Linked DNA regions of Homo sapiens. The gene in region 1 interacts genetically with each later gene. Each region holds a gene or a part of one and is shown in the gene's direction. Other genes may lie near its edges.

The links.
Region 2: changes in ARID1A (region 1) and PHB1 together harm fitness more than expected from each alone (negative genetic interaction), as found in Homo sapiens cells (one large-scale study listed by BioGRID).
Region 3: changes in ARID1A (region 1) and PRUNE1 together harm fitness more than expected from each alone (negative genetic interaction), as found in Homo sapiens cells (one large-scale study listed by BioGRID).
Region 4: changes in ARID1A (region 1) and CARNS1 together harm fitness more than expected from each alone (negative genetic interaction), as found in Homo sapiens cells (one large-scale study listed by BioGRID).

The regions. Positions count from the first base shown.
Region 1 is NC_000001.11:26,776,015-26,779,309, forward strand, and holds part of ARID1A (AT-rich interactive domain-containing protein 1A), read left to right. Parts: intron 1-3,008; coding exon 3,009-3,295. UniProt on the Homo sapiens protein: Involved in transcriptional activation and repression of select genes by chromatin remodeling (alteration of DNA-nucleosome topology).
Region 2 is NC_000017.11:49,408,383-49,411,882, reverse strand, and holds part of PHB1 (prohibitin 1), read left to right. Parts: intron 1-43; coding exon 44-205; intron 206-2,409; coding exon 2,410-2,552; intron 2,553-2,724; coding exon 2,725-2,841; intron 2,842-3,500.
Region 3 is NC_000001.11:151,018,449-151,021,948, forward strand, and holds part of PRUNE1 (exopolyphosphatase PRUNE1), read left to right. Parts: intron 1-18; coding exon 19-221; intron 222-3,500. UniProt on the Homo sapiens protein: Phosphodiesterase (PDE) that has higher activity toward cAMP than cGMP, as substrate. Plays a role in cell proliferation, migration and differentiation, and acts as a negative regulator of NME1. Plays a role in the regulation of neurogenesis.
Region 4 is NC_000011.10:67,418,678-67,422,177, forward strand, and holds part of CARNS1 (carnosine synthase 1), read left to right. Parts: intron 1-78; coding exon 79-566; intron 567-809; coding exon 810-984; intron 985-1,075; coding exon 1,076-1,161; intron 1,162-1,931; coding exon 1,932-2,163; intron 2,164-2,261; coding exon 2,262-2,542; intron 2,543-3,500. UniProt on the Homo sapiens protein: Catalyzes the synthesis of carnosine and homocarnosine. Carnosine is synthesized more efficiently than homocarnosine.

The DNA.
Region 1 (3,295 bases):
TGTTTTTTTGTTTTTTTAATAGAGACGAGGTCTCACTATGTTGCCGAGGTTCATGAACTCCTGAGTTCAAGTGATCCTCCCAAAGTGCTAGGATTACAGGCATGAGCCACCAGGCCCAGCCTGAATCTGTGGTCAAATTTTTATCAGTGAGCAGAGTATGTTTTTTCCATTTTTCCCTTTCTTCTCTGAACAGTAGGGGCCTTTGTTGATCCCAGTTTTCCTTAGATGTAGAGTGGATGGGGGATTTGATTGTTTAACAATATTCTTTTTTTTTTTTTTTTGACTGAGTCTCTCTGTCGCCCAGGCTGGAGTGCAGTGGCGCTATCACAGCTCACTGCAACTTCCGCCTCCTGGGTACATGCCATTCTCCTGCCTCAGCCTCCCAAGTAGCTGGGACTACAGGCGCCCGCCACCACGCTCGGCTAATTTTTTGTATTTTTAGTAGAGACGGGGTTTCACCGTGTTAGCCAGGATGGTCTCGATCTCCTGACCTCGTGATCCAGCCGCCTCAGCCTCCCAAAGTGCTGGGATTACAGGCGTGAGCAACCGCGCCCGGCCCTACAATATTCTTACAAAGCTGATTCTTCAGACCCACCCTCCATAGGATGTGCACACTAGTGGAGGTGCTGGAAAGAGTTTGTGCTGCATCATCCTACTCTTTTTCTTTTGATCATCTTTAGTACCTACCAACCTGTATATCAAGGAGCTGACTTATTAATAGTTACCATTTATCGTGCTCTTATTTTGTGCCAGGTCCTTAATATTTTGTTTCATGTCATCCTAGCAACAGCCCTCAGAGGTAGGAGGTATGGCCATTTAGGGATGAGTAAATAGGCTCAGTCTTATCCTTGTTGAGGTTCACATAGCTGTCAGTAGAATCTATCTGATTCCTAAGCCTGATTTTATTTCCATTGCATAATATTGCCTACCATGAGAAAGGAAAAATTTTGATAGAGCAATTTTCATATGCCAGGTATTTGACATCTCCCATTTACACCTCAGAACAACCCTGTAAAGTTTAGGAATTTTTATCATTTTATACAGCTACTTCCTGGAAAAGCCAGAATTTTTTTTTTAAGAGACTCTGGCACCTAGGCTGGAGTGTAGTAGTGCCCTCATGGCTCACTGCAGCCTCAAACTCCTGGGCTCAAGCGATCCTCTTGCCTCAGTCTCCTGAGTAGCTGGGACTACAGGCAAATGCCACCATGTCCAGCTATTTATTTATTTTGAGACAGGGTCTCCATTACTCAAGCTAGAGTGCAGTGGTGCAATCACAGCTCACTGCAGTCTCAACTTCCGAGGCTCAGGTGATCCTCCCACCTCAGCTTCCCAAGTGGCTGGGACTACAGGTGCGTGCAAACATGCTCATGCTCAGCTAATTTTTTTTTTTTTTTTTTTTGAGAGATGAGGCTTCACCATGTTGCCCAGGCTGATTTCAAACTCCTGGGCTCAAGTGATTGACCTACCTCAGCCTCTCAAAGTACTAGGATTACAGGTGTGAGCCACCGTTCCAGGCCCCGGATAACTTCTTTATTTTTTTATAGAGGCAGGGTCTCACTGTGTTGCCCAGGCTGGTCTCAAACTCCTAGGCTCAAGTGATTCTCCCACTTCAACCTTCCAAAGTGTTGGGATTACTGGCTGGGTGCAGTGGCTCACGCCTGTAATCCCAGCACTTCAGGAGGCCGAGGCAGGAGGATCATTTGAGGTCAGGAGTTTGAGGCCAGCTGGCCAACATGGTGAAACTCCATCTCTACTAAAACTATAAAAATTAGGCTGGGCGCAGTGGCTCACGCCAGTAATCCTAGCACTTTGGGAGGCCAAGGTGGGTGGATCACTTGAGGTTAGGAGTTCAAGACCATCCTGGCCAATATGGTGAAACTCCATCTCCACCAAAAATATAAAAATTAGCCGGGCCTGGTGGCACACACCTCTAATCCCAGCTACTTGGGAGGCAGAGGCAGAAGAATCACTTTGAACCCAGGAGGCAGAGGTTGCAGTGAGCTGAGATCGTGCCACTGCACTCCAGCCTGGGCAACAGAGCGGGACTCTGTCTCAAAAAAAAAAAAAAAAAAATACACACACACACACTCTCACACACTAGCCCGATGTGGTGGCAGGCGCCTGTAATCCCAGCTACTTGGGAGGCTAAGGCAGGAGAAAAATCGCTTGAACCCAGGAGGCGGAGGCTGCAGCCAACTGAGATCACACCACTGTACTCCAGCCTGGATGACAGAGTGAGACTTCATCTCAAAAAAAAAAAAAAGTGTTGGGATTACAGGTGTGAGCCACTGCTTCCAGCCCCTAGATCTAATTCGAAAGCCCTTATTTTTTTTTCCATCTGCTCTACTGTTCAGCCAAAGATTGTGACTGGAGAGGAGTGTTTTCTTCTAGAGGTAAATAAATGGCCTATATATTATCCAAGGTGGAATTTGGGTCTCTGTAGCACCAGCTTGGACCAGTGTTTGGAGAGCTGAAGCCTCGTCCCACTCCTTATGCTGCAAGATCCATGGAGTTCCAGCCCCCTGGACTTGTGGGGAGCTTGGAGAAGAGAGCCATGAACATCTGCCCACATGGCATTCTCTTCTCTTAGCTTAAGTCACCATGCCTAAGCTTGGGTTCCACTTGGCAGTGAGATGGAGAGAGTGTCCTAAAAGAGATAATGGCAATGACCACCAGGTTGAAAACTGGCCTGGTGAAGAAAAGCAGAAGATTAATTGGGAAAAGAGAAGGCTAAGAGATGATTGGCCCTGGTGGGTGAGGTGCAAAGCTGTTGGCTAGTGTTCCTGGAGATAGGCTTACGTGAAGGTAGGTTGGGCAGAAGAAAGAACTTTGTGTTGGGCATAGAAGAGATTAAGATGAACAATTTGCTCTGTGGAGAACCTTTGGGAAAGGAGCAACTCTGCCTCTCCCAACTGATACAGAAGACTTGGGGAGGTCTCTCAAGTCAATAATTCTGTTCTTAGGCCACTTTTCTCCCTTAATTTATTTCCTGTTCTTTCTCTTTTTAGCTCCCAGGGTTGCTAGAGCTCCTTGTAGAATATTTCCGACGATGCCTGATTGAGATCTTTGGCATTTTAAAGGAGTATGAGGTGGGTGACCCAGGACAGAGAACGCTACTGGATCCTGGGAGGTTCAGCAAGGTGTCTAGTCCAGCTCCCATGGAGGGTGGGGAAGAAGAAGAAGAACTTCTAGGTCCTAAACTAGAAGAGGAAGAAGAAGAGGAAGTAGTTGAAAATGATGAGGAGATAGCCTTTTCAGGCAAGGACAAGCCAGCTTCAGAGAATAGTGAGGAGAA
Region 2 (3,500 bases), on another chromosome or scaffold:
GATGAGAGGATTTTTATGACATGTCATTGTCCTTTCTTCCTAGTGGATGCTGGGCACAGAGCTGTCATCTTTGACCGATTCCGTGGAGTGCAGGACATTGTGGTAGGGGAAGGGACTCATTTTCTCATCCCGTGGGTACAGAAACCAATTATCTTTGACTGCCGTTCTCGACCACGTAATGTGCCAGTCATCACTGGTAGCAAAGGTGAGTCTTGCCTATGGTTCAGGTAAAGTAGGGAGTGTGGAAGAGGTGCTCTGTTCTTCTGTGTCACAGGAGCATCTGTGGGATACCAGGATCCAAAAGAGTTTGAACTGTACATCATAGGAATGACTAGACTACTTGCCCTGGAGAGCTTGATATGGAATCTTAGAAATACCCACTTATGGCTGGGTGCGGTGGTTCATGCCTGTAATCCCAGCACTTTGGGAGGCTGAGGCAGGTGGATCACCTGAGGTCAGGAGTTCAAGACCAGCCTGGCCAATGTGGTGAAACCCCATCTCTCCTAAAAATACAAAAATTAGCCGGTGGTGGGGGGTGCCTGTAATCCCAGCTACTTGAGAGGCTGAGGCAGGAGAATTGCTTGAGCCTGGGGGGCGGAGGTTGCAGTGAGCTAAGATTGTGCCACTTCACTGCAGCCTGGGCAACAGAGTGAGACTCTGTCTCAAAAAAAAAAAAAAAAAAAGCCTGCTTCTAATCTTCCCATCTCTTTGGAATTTCTTTCCGTACTGTTTTGCAGTTGTTTTCAGGATACATTATGTACCTATTTCTAAAACTATTGATAGGAGCTTCCAGAGATCAGGGAGTTGTAGGTATTAATACATTGCCCACCTCTCTTGGTGCCCAGTTCAGGGCTGTCTCATGGGCGCTTGGTCCATATTGTTGACATCTGTAAGCAAGCCGTGACAGTGCTTTGGCTCCAGGCAGGCCTGAATTGTCCAGGGGAAAGTATAATTCTCTCCCTGGATCCTTTAAATGGTCCAAGTAATGAGAAGCAGAACATAGGATCAGTCTGTTAACCCCTTATATGTGTTACACATTTGACAGAGTGCTTTTACGTCTGTTTTCTCCTTCAATTTTCCCCAACATTTCCGCAAGGCCCAGAAAGCAAATGAAATTGTCCCCATTCTCATAGACAGGGAAATAAGCTCAGGTTGGCTAAGGCTTAGAGAGGCCACATCATTAGTAAATAGCCCAGATCTTTGGACTGATAGTCTAACACCGTTTCCACCAGACCCGAACTAACCTCTCCAAGGCTGACTCCTGACTTGGCCACAATCACCAGAGCATGTAAAGGCCTCACCCTACAATTCTTAGCATTGCCCTGTCTATTGTCTTAAAATGTTCAGTGTTGCAAACTTTGCATGGCACCTGTTAGACATATAATCTGAATTATGTATATCTGAGGGCATTCAGGGGATACCAAAAAGCTGCTATCACTGAAGCCTCTTAAGAAATTATAAACTCTTTATGATGCTCTATTGGGTTCTCTGCCAAGGAAACCAGGCATACCTGCACCTTGCCCTCTGGGATCTTATAATCAGCAGATTTGCTTATAAATTGTAGCAAATTTGGAGCCAGGCACAGTGGTGCGTGTCAGCTACTCAAGAGGCTGAGGCAGGAGAAATGCTTAAGCTCAGGAGCTTGAGTCTAGCCTGGGCCACATAGCAAGACCTTGTCTCTAAAAATAAAAAATAAAAATTGCCAGGCGTAATGGCTCACACCTGTAATTCTAGCATTTTGGGAGGCTGAGGCAGTTGGATCACTTGAGCCCAGGAGTTTGAGACCAGCCTGGGAAATATGGCGAAACCCCAGCTCTACAAAAAGTACAGAGATTAGCTGGGCGTGGTGGTCTGTGCCTGTGTAGTCCCAGCTACTTGGAAGGTGTAGGTGGGAGGATCAACTGAGCCCAGGAGGTCAAAGCGGCTACAGTGAGCTGTGATCTTACCACTGCACTTCAGCCTGGGCAACATGTGACCCTGTCTCAAAATACATAAATAAAAATTGTAGCAAATTGGAGTAGGAGAGGTCATATAAAAGACCACTTGTGGCCAGGTGCGGTGGCTCACACCTGTAATCCCAGCACTTTGGGAGGCTGAGGCAGGTAGATCACCTGAGGTCAGGAGTTTGAGACCAGCCTAACATGGTGACACCCTGTCTCTACTAAAAATACAAAACAGCTGGGTGTGGCGGCGCGTGCCTGTAATCCCAGCTACTCAGGAGGCTGAGGCAGGAGAATTGCTTGAATCTGGGAGGCAGAGGTTGTAGTGAGCCGAGATTGTCCCATTGTACTCCAGCCTAGGCAACAAGAGCAAAAACCTGTCTCAAAAAAAAAAAAAAACAAAAAAAAAACACTTGTTTTCCTACAGTGGTTTTTATTTTTAACTCCAGTGTTTGTCCCCTACCCTAAGATTTACAGAATGTCAACATCACACTGCGCATCCTCTTCCGGCCTGTCGCCAGCCAGCTTCCTCGCATCTTCACCAGCATCGGAGAGGACTATGATGAGCGTGTGCTGCCGTCCATCACAACTGAGATCCTCAAGTCAGTGGTGGTGAGTGAACAGGGGCCTTTAGCCTCGAGCCCAGAGCACCACCCTGGGAGGGTGCCAGGTGGCAGGAAGCGCTTGGCAGTGGGTTGGTTGGGATGTGGCTGCTAGTTTCCTGGTTCCTTTTCTGCTTCCTCATTAACCTGACCTGCCCTTCTGCTCCTCCCTTTGAAACCAGGCTCGCTTTGATGCTGGAGAACTAATCACCCAGAGAGAGCTGGTCTCCAGGCAGGTGAGCGACGACCTTACAGAGCGAGCCGCCACCTTTGGGCTCATCCTGGATGACGTGTCCTTGGTAAGATCCTTCGGGAGACCGAGGAGGGGAAGGGGCTGCAGTTCTCGTTTAGGTGCCTGGCTCCATTTCTGGGTAGACGCTATTAGGTCCTCCCTTCTGCTTTGCTAGATGTGAGACTTGAAAACACGGAAACATGCTGAGGTGAGGCAGTCTCCGTGGGTTTTTCAGTTGAGGGTTCTTTTACCTTCCCCCTGCCACACACATTTTTCTTATGACCTCTGGTTGTATCCAGATAGTCTCTAACCACTAAATGTTTTACCTTCTCCAAACTGTTACCCAGAGAGTGATGCCTTGTTAACCCTGTTTGACACAGGCAGAAACTGCCTGGTAGAGACCAGAGAACAGCTCGGGTAGTCCTTCTCCCTAGCACAGACCTCCCAGCCTGACTCCTGGGAGCTTCCTAACACTTTACAGTCCGAAGCTCAGTGAAGTAAGCTCTGGGAACCCCAGTGAAAGGTGATAGAGTGTAAACGAACGGTTGGATTCCCCCAGGCCTGGTATAGGGGGCAAGGGACATCTCTGAGGCGTAAGCTATCCTCTTGAGACACTATAGCTTGTGTGTTTATATGACATTGGATGTCATAACTCAGAAAGCAATGCAGGCAGGATAGCGTTTCAGGTTGAGGAGGGTGAGGGGAAGGGGTCGTGTTTCTAGATTC
Region 3 (3,500 bases), about 120 Mb from region 1:
TTTCACTTTCCTATCTAGACAACTGAGGCTGAGGAAGTCTTTGTGCCAGTTTTAAATATAAAACGTTCTGAACTACCTCTGCGAGGTGACATTGTCTTCTTTCTTCAGAAGGTTCATATTCCAGAGAGTATCTTGATTTTTCGGGATGAGATTGACCTCCATGCATTATACCAGGCTGGCCAACTCACCCTCATCCTTGTCGACCATCATATCTTATCCAAGTAAGCACAAGGAAATTAAATTGCTACCTATCATGTACCATGCTGGGCTCTGATGAGTGAGATATAAAGAGAGGAAGAAAGAGTTTTTGCTGGCTGGGCATGGTGGCTCATGCCTGTAATCCCAGCACTTTGGGAGGCCAAGGCGGGCGGATCACCTGAGATCAGGATTTTGAGACCAGCCTGGACAACATGGCAAAACCCCGTCTCTACTAAAAATATAAAAATTAGCTGGGCGTGGTGGCAAGTGCCTGTAATCCCAGCTACTTGGGAGGCTGAGGCGGGAGAATCACTTGAACCTGGAAGGTGGTGGTTGCAGTGAGCCGAGATCGTGCCACTGCACTCCAGCCTGAGCGACAGAGCCAGACTCCGTCTCAAAAAAGAAAGAGTTTTTGCTTTCAGGGATCTCATAGGCTAATCATAATTGATAGGTCATATTAGATATAGAAAAACAACACAAAATATTGTCAGTTCTGCAGTTATATGTATGTCTGTGGCATATAGACATACCCTATAATAAAAAGAAATAGAACGTGTTGAGTTCAAACTAAAGGGTAACTCAAAAATCATTTAAATCTGCCTTTGGTATCATTATTTAAGATTTTGTGTGCCGGGTGTGATGGCTCACGCCTGTAATCTCAGCACTTTGGGAGGCCAAGGCAGCCAGATCCATTAAGCTCCAGGAGTTCAAGACCCGCCTGAGCAACATGGCAAAACCATGTCTTTACAAAAAATTTTTAAAAATTAGGCACGGTGGTGCATGCCTATGGTCCCAGCTACTCGGGAGGTTGAGGTGGGAGGATCACTTGAGCCCAGGAGGTCGAATCTGCAGTGAGCCAAGATCACACCACTCCACTCCAAGCCTGGGAGACAGAGGGAGACCCTGTCTCAAAAAAAAAAAAAAAAAAGATTCTGAGACAGATTTATTGTAATAGAAACCTTTGAAAAATGTTTGCAATTCTCTTTTTATTTTTTTACTTATTATTTATTTTTGTACTTACTTATTAAATTTTTTTTAGAGAAGAGGGTCTTGCTATATTGCCCAGGCGGATCTCAAATTCCTAGGCTCATGCTATCTTCCTGCCTCTGCCTCCCTAAGTGCTGGTTTATAGGTGTGAGCCACCACACCTGGCCTGCAACTCTATTTTTAATTTTAATTTTAATTAATTATTTTTTTTTGAGATGGAGTCTTGCTCTGTCACCCAGGCTTCAGTGCAGTGGTGTGATCTCGGCTCACTGCAACAACCTCTGCCTCCTGGGTTCAAGCGATTCTCCCTGCCTCAGTCTCCTGAGTAGCTGGGATTACAGGTGCGCGCCACCATGCCCAGCTAATTTTTATATTTTTTACTGGAGACAGGGTTTTGCGCTGTTGGCCAGGCTGGCCTGGAACTCCTGACCTCAGATGATCTGCCCACTTTGGCCTCCCAAAGTGGTGGGATTACAGGCGTGAGCCACCACACCTGGCCTATTTTTAATTTTTAAAAAGTGGCCTGGTGTGGTGGCTCACGCCTGTAATCCCAGCACTTAGGGAGACCTGTCTGACCACTATAGCGAGACCCTGTTCTCTAAAAAAAAATAATAAATACAAAAATCTATAAACATAGTGTGACCTTGTCTCTACTAAAAATAAAAAAATTTGCCAGGTGTGGTAGTGCATGCCTGTAGTCCCAGCTACTTAGGAGGCTGCTGAGGTGGTAGGATCACTTGAGCCTAGGAATTGAGGCTTCAGTAAGCCATGATCACATCACTGTACTCCAGCCTGAGTGACAGGGCAAGAACTTGTCTCCAAAAAAATTTTTTTAAGTTATCAAAAGGGCCAGGTGTGGTGGCTCACACCTGTAAACCCAGCACTTTGGGAGGGTGAAACAGGAGGGTTGCTTGAGCCCAGGAGTTCAAGACCAGCTTGGGCAAGATGGTGAGATCCCATCTCTACAAAAAAATTTAAAAGCACACAAAAAGTTAGCAAAAGTTTTTCTACATAAACTCTTACGATTTTAGAATAATGTATTATGTTAGAATATATAAATATCTCAGGCCAGGCGCGGTGGCTCATGCCTGTAATCCCAGCACTTTGGGAGGCTGAGGGGGGCGGATCATGAGGTCAGGAGATGGAGACCATCCTGGCTAACATGGTGAAAACCCGTCTCTACTAAAAAATACAAAAAATTAGCCGGGCATGGTGGCGGACGCCGATAGTCCCAGCTACTCGGGAGTCTGAGGTAGGAGAATGGCATGAACCCGGGAGGCGGAGCTTTCAGTGAGCTGAGATCATGCCACTTGCACTCCAGCCTGGGCGACAGAGCAAGACTCCATCTTAAAAAAAAAAAAAAATAGCTGGGCGTGGTGGCTCGCGCCTGTAAGTCCCAGCTACTTGGGAGGCTGAGGCAGGAGAATCGCTTGAACCTAGGAGGTGGAGGTTGCAGTGAGCCAAGATCGCGCCACTGCGCTCCAGTCTGAGCGACAGAGTGATGCTCTGTCTCAAAAAAAAAAAAAAAAAAATTAGCCAGGCCGGGCGTGGTGGCTCACGCCTGTAATCCCAGCACTTTGGGAGGCTGAGGCGGGCAGAATCACCTGAGGTCAGGAGTTTGAGACCAGCCTGACCAACATGGAGAAACCCCATCTCTACTAAAAATACAAAATTAGCCAGGCGTGGTGGCACATGCCTGTAATCCCAGCTACTCAGGAGGCTGAGGCAGGAGAATTGCTTGAACATGGGAGCCAGAGGTTGCGGTGAGCCGAGATCATGCCATCGCACTCCAGCCTGTGCAACAAGAGCGAAACTCCGTCTCAAAAAAAAATTTTTTTTAATCTATAAATATCTCAATAATGTCTGTTTAACAAATGTACACATTTATAATAATTCCATCCCTAATTTACTACTGGAAAAAACTACCAAAAAAGCAACACGATTATGTGACTTTCCTAAGTCTGTTTGGCTCCTGCTAATATTTTTTTCTTGAGCACATTGTGGTTATAGCAGGATACTGACAGAAGGCAGCCTGAGAGAGCATTATCCATCTATGGATTCATTCAGTAATAAACTTTCCTTTTTTTTTCTTTTTTTTTTTTGAGACAGAGTTTTCTCTTGTTGCCTAGGTTGGAGTGCAATAGTGCAATCTAGGCTCACTGCAACCTCCGCCTCCCGGGATAATTTTGTGTGTGTGTGTGTGTGTGTGTTTTTAGTAGAGATGGGGCTTCACCATGTTGGTCAGGCTGGTCTTCAACTCCTGACCTCAGGTGATCCGCCCACCTCGGACTCCCAAAGTGCTGGGATTACAGGTA
Region 4 (3,500 bases), on another chromosome or scaffold:
TTCCACTCCGCTACCCGGGGGCCCGGGCATAGGGCATCAAGCCTTCCCTGGCCAGCCACTTGCCTTCTCTGCCCACAGGAAACATGCTCCTTTGCCTGTCCCCTGCTTGGCTGATGAAGGTGCCAGCACCCGGGCAGCCGGGTGAGGCAGCCCTGCTAGTCTCCAAGGCTGTGAGCTTCCACCCTGGGGGCCTGACATTCCTGGATGACTTTGTCCCCCCGCGCCGTGCCACCTACTTTTTGGCAGGCCTGGGCCTGGGGCCTGGCCGGGGCCGAGAGGCAGCAGAACTCGCCCGTGACCTGACCTGCCCCACAGGAGCTTCGGCTGAGCTGGCCCGGCTGCTGGAGGACCGGCTGCTGACAAGGCAGTTGCTGGCCCAGCAGGGTGGTGTGGCTGTGCCAGCAACCCTGGCTTTCACCTACAAGCCGCCGGGGCTGCTGCGGGGAGGGGATGCCAGCCTAGGGCTACGGCTGGTGGAGCTGAGTGGCAAAGAGGGCCAGGAGACGCTGGTGAAAGAGGAAGTGGAGGCTTTTCTGCGCTCCGAGGCCCTGGGTGATATCCTGCAGGTAACAGACTCTCGCCCACCCTGAGGTCTGTACAGATGCCAGCAGGATGGGACCCAGGCACGGTTACCAAGTCTGGCTGGAAAGGTGTCCCTACCTCTTAGCCCTGCCGCTGCCCTGCCCCATCTCTGGGGCAATCCCCTGCCCTTTTGCCTCAGTTTACTCACCGGCTCCTGTGGCGGAAGTGCCCCACCCTGCAGTACCTGGGGTGGTGTCCAGGAGGCCCCTTTCCCCTCCTTGCTGCAGGTAGCTGTGAAGCTCAGTGGCTGGCGCTGGCGGGGGCGGCAGGCATGGCGTCTGCACCCGCGGGCAGAGCTGGGTGCAGTGGTGGACACAGTGCTGGCGCTGCTGGAGAAGCTGGAGGAGGAGGAGAGTGTCCTGGTGGAGGCTGTGTACCCACCTGCCCAGCTGCCCTGCTCAGGTGAGAGCCACCTGGGCTGACCAGGGATGGGAGTTTGGTGTGGCCTTCTGGCCACTCTGTGCTGGCCTTAGACCTCCCCGTCTTCCCCCAGATGGTCCTTCACCCGGCCCCGGCCTGGCCGTGCGAATCTGTGCTGTGGTGTGTCGGACACAGGGTGATAGGCCACTGCTGAGCAAGGTGAGCGTGGCCCAGGCCCAGGCTGTGACCCTGCCTGCCACACGCCAGCCCAGTCCCAGTAGTGGTTTGCCAAGGGCCCCTGAGCCGTCTCTGGGCAGAGAGGACAAAATCCTTAGGGGGGTCGTAGTTGCCTCTGGGGAAACTACTGGGTCTGACCGTCTTCCCTCTCCTGCAACCCTTCCAGAATCCCTCCCACACCAAGAGCCCCTGCCCCTGTGCTCAGCCCCACGCTGGGTAGTACCAGGGCCCAGGGGGCTGAATTGTCTTCCCAGAGAGCTCTTGCCCACGTAGAGGCTGACCCAGGGCCTCCTGATAAACCTCTAGTGCCTGGACGCCTTCAGGAGGGGCCTCTAAGCTGGAGAGTCAGGAAGGCTTACGGACCCTCCTGAGTACCCCGCTCTAGGCTACACTGAGAGGGAGAGATTCGACCCTGCCCTCAGGGAGCTCCAGTGGGGTAGGGAAAGGTGCGCCCCAGGGAGATGCTAGGGTGGGGCACACCAGGGTGGCCCAGGCCCCCAGGGCTGCAGGAGCCATCCTGGAGGGGGACCCCAGCTGGGCCTGGAAGCCTGGGTAGGTAGAATCCCTGGAGAGGTCTGGGGACCAGATGGGGAGTGGCAGGGAGAGCTCGTGTGCAATTTAAGACACGTTGGAGGACGGGGCTTCTTGAATGTCCAGTGAGGGGTCTGGTCTGAATTTTGGCACAAGGCGGTGGGGGTGTGCGTGGGGGGCAGGGAGTGTGTGGGCCTCCCCCTGAGTCTCCCCCTGCCCAGGTGGTGTGCGGCGTGGGCCGCGGGGACCGCCCTCTACGGCACCACAACTCCCTGCCGAGGACGCTGGAGGTGGCGCTGGCCCAGTGCGGCCTGGGCGAGGAGGCGCAGGTGGCGGCTGTGCGGCAGCGCGTCAAGGCGGCGGCCGAGGCCGCGCTGGCCGCCGTGCTGGCTCTGGAGGCCGGCCTGAGTGCCGAGCAGCGCGGCGGGCGCCGGGCGCACACGGACTTCCTGGGTGAGTGAGGGCGGCCGGGGCCGGGGCCGGGAGCCGAGGGCCAGGGGCTGGAGGGCGGTGGCTGCCGTAGCTGAGCTCGCGCCTCCCGCCCGGCGCAGGCGTGGATTTCGCGCTGACAGCGGCCGGCGGCGTGCTGACCCCAGTGGCCCTGGAGCTGAACGGCGGCCTGTGTCTGGAGGCGTGCGGCGCGCTGGAGGGGCTGTGGGCCGCGCCGCGGCTGGGGCCGGCGGCCGACGAGGCGGTGGCGGCGCCGCTGGTGGAGACCATGCTTCGGCGGTCGGCGCGCTGCCTCATGGAGGGAAAACAGCTGCTGGTGGTCGGCGCTGGCGGCGTCAGCAAGAAGTTCGTGTGGGAGGCGGCGCGCGACTACGGGCTCCAGGTGGGCGGGGCGCGGGGCGGGGCTGGGCCCCAGGTCCTGGCCCGAGTGGTGGAGGCGGGACCCCGGGGCGGGGCCTGGAGCAAAGGGGCGTCCTTGGGGCGGGACCAGCCGCGCTAGAGGCGGTGCTTGGGCGGGGCATCCTGGCCAGGTACAAGTAAGCCCAGGAGTAAGGGCGGAGTCCGCCGCCCGGTGAGGGTGAGGGGACTCCGCTAGTTCTGGAGTGAGAGGCCCTGGGGAGGGCAGGGAGTCCTCCACAGAAAGAGGAGAGGAGCCCGGGTAGATGGGCTGGGCGAGGGACAGCGTTAGCGCCAGAGTGGGGGCCTTGAATGCCAGGCTAAGGAGCCTGGCTCTGTCTTGGGGAAAGGGCGGGCCCTTTGAGGTTGAATTCCTGACACTTGGCACCCAGGACCCGCAGAGGGTGCTGGGGAACCGCATACAGATCCTGAATCAAGTTCATAGCAGGGCATCACTTTACAGAATCTGGAGCGAGCCAGGCAGGTAGACTTGTTTTTGTTTTTTCTTTTTTGAGACAGGGTCTCAATCTGTTGACCAGACTGGAGTGCGGTGGTGCGATCACAGCTCACTGCAGCCTCGACTTCCTGGGCTGAAGCGATCCTCCCACCTCAGCCTCCCTAGTAGCTGAGACTACAGGCACGTGCCACCATGCCCAGCTAATTTTTTTTTTTTGAAACGGAGTCTTGCTCTGTCGCCCAGGCTGGGTGCAGTGGCGTGATCTCGGCTCACTGCAACCTCCCGGGTTCACGCCATTCTCCTGCCTCAGGCTCCCGAGTACCTGGGACTACAGGCGCCCGCCACCACGCCTGGCTAACTTTTAGTAGAGATGGGGTTTCACCATGTTAGCCAGGATGGTCTCGATCTCCTGACCTCGTGATCCACCCGCCTCAGCCTCCCAAAGTGCTGGGATTACAGGCGTGAGCCACCGCGCCCGGCCTTTTTT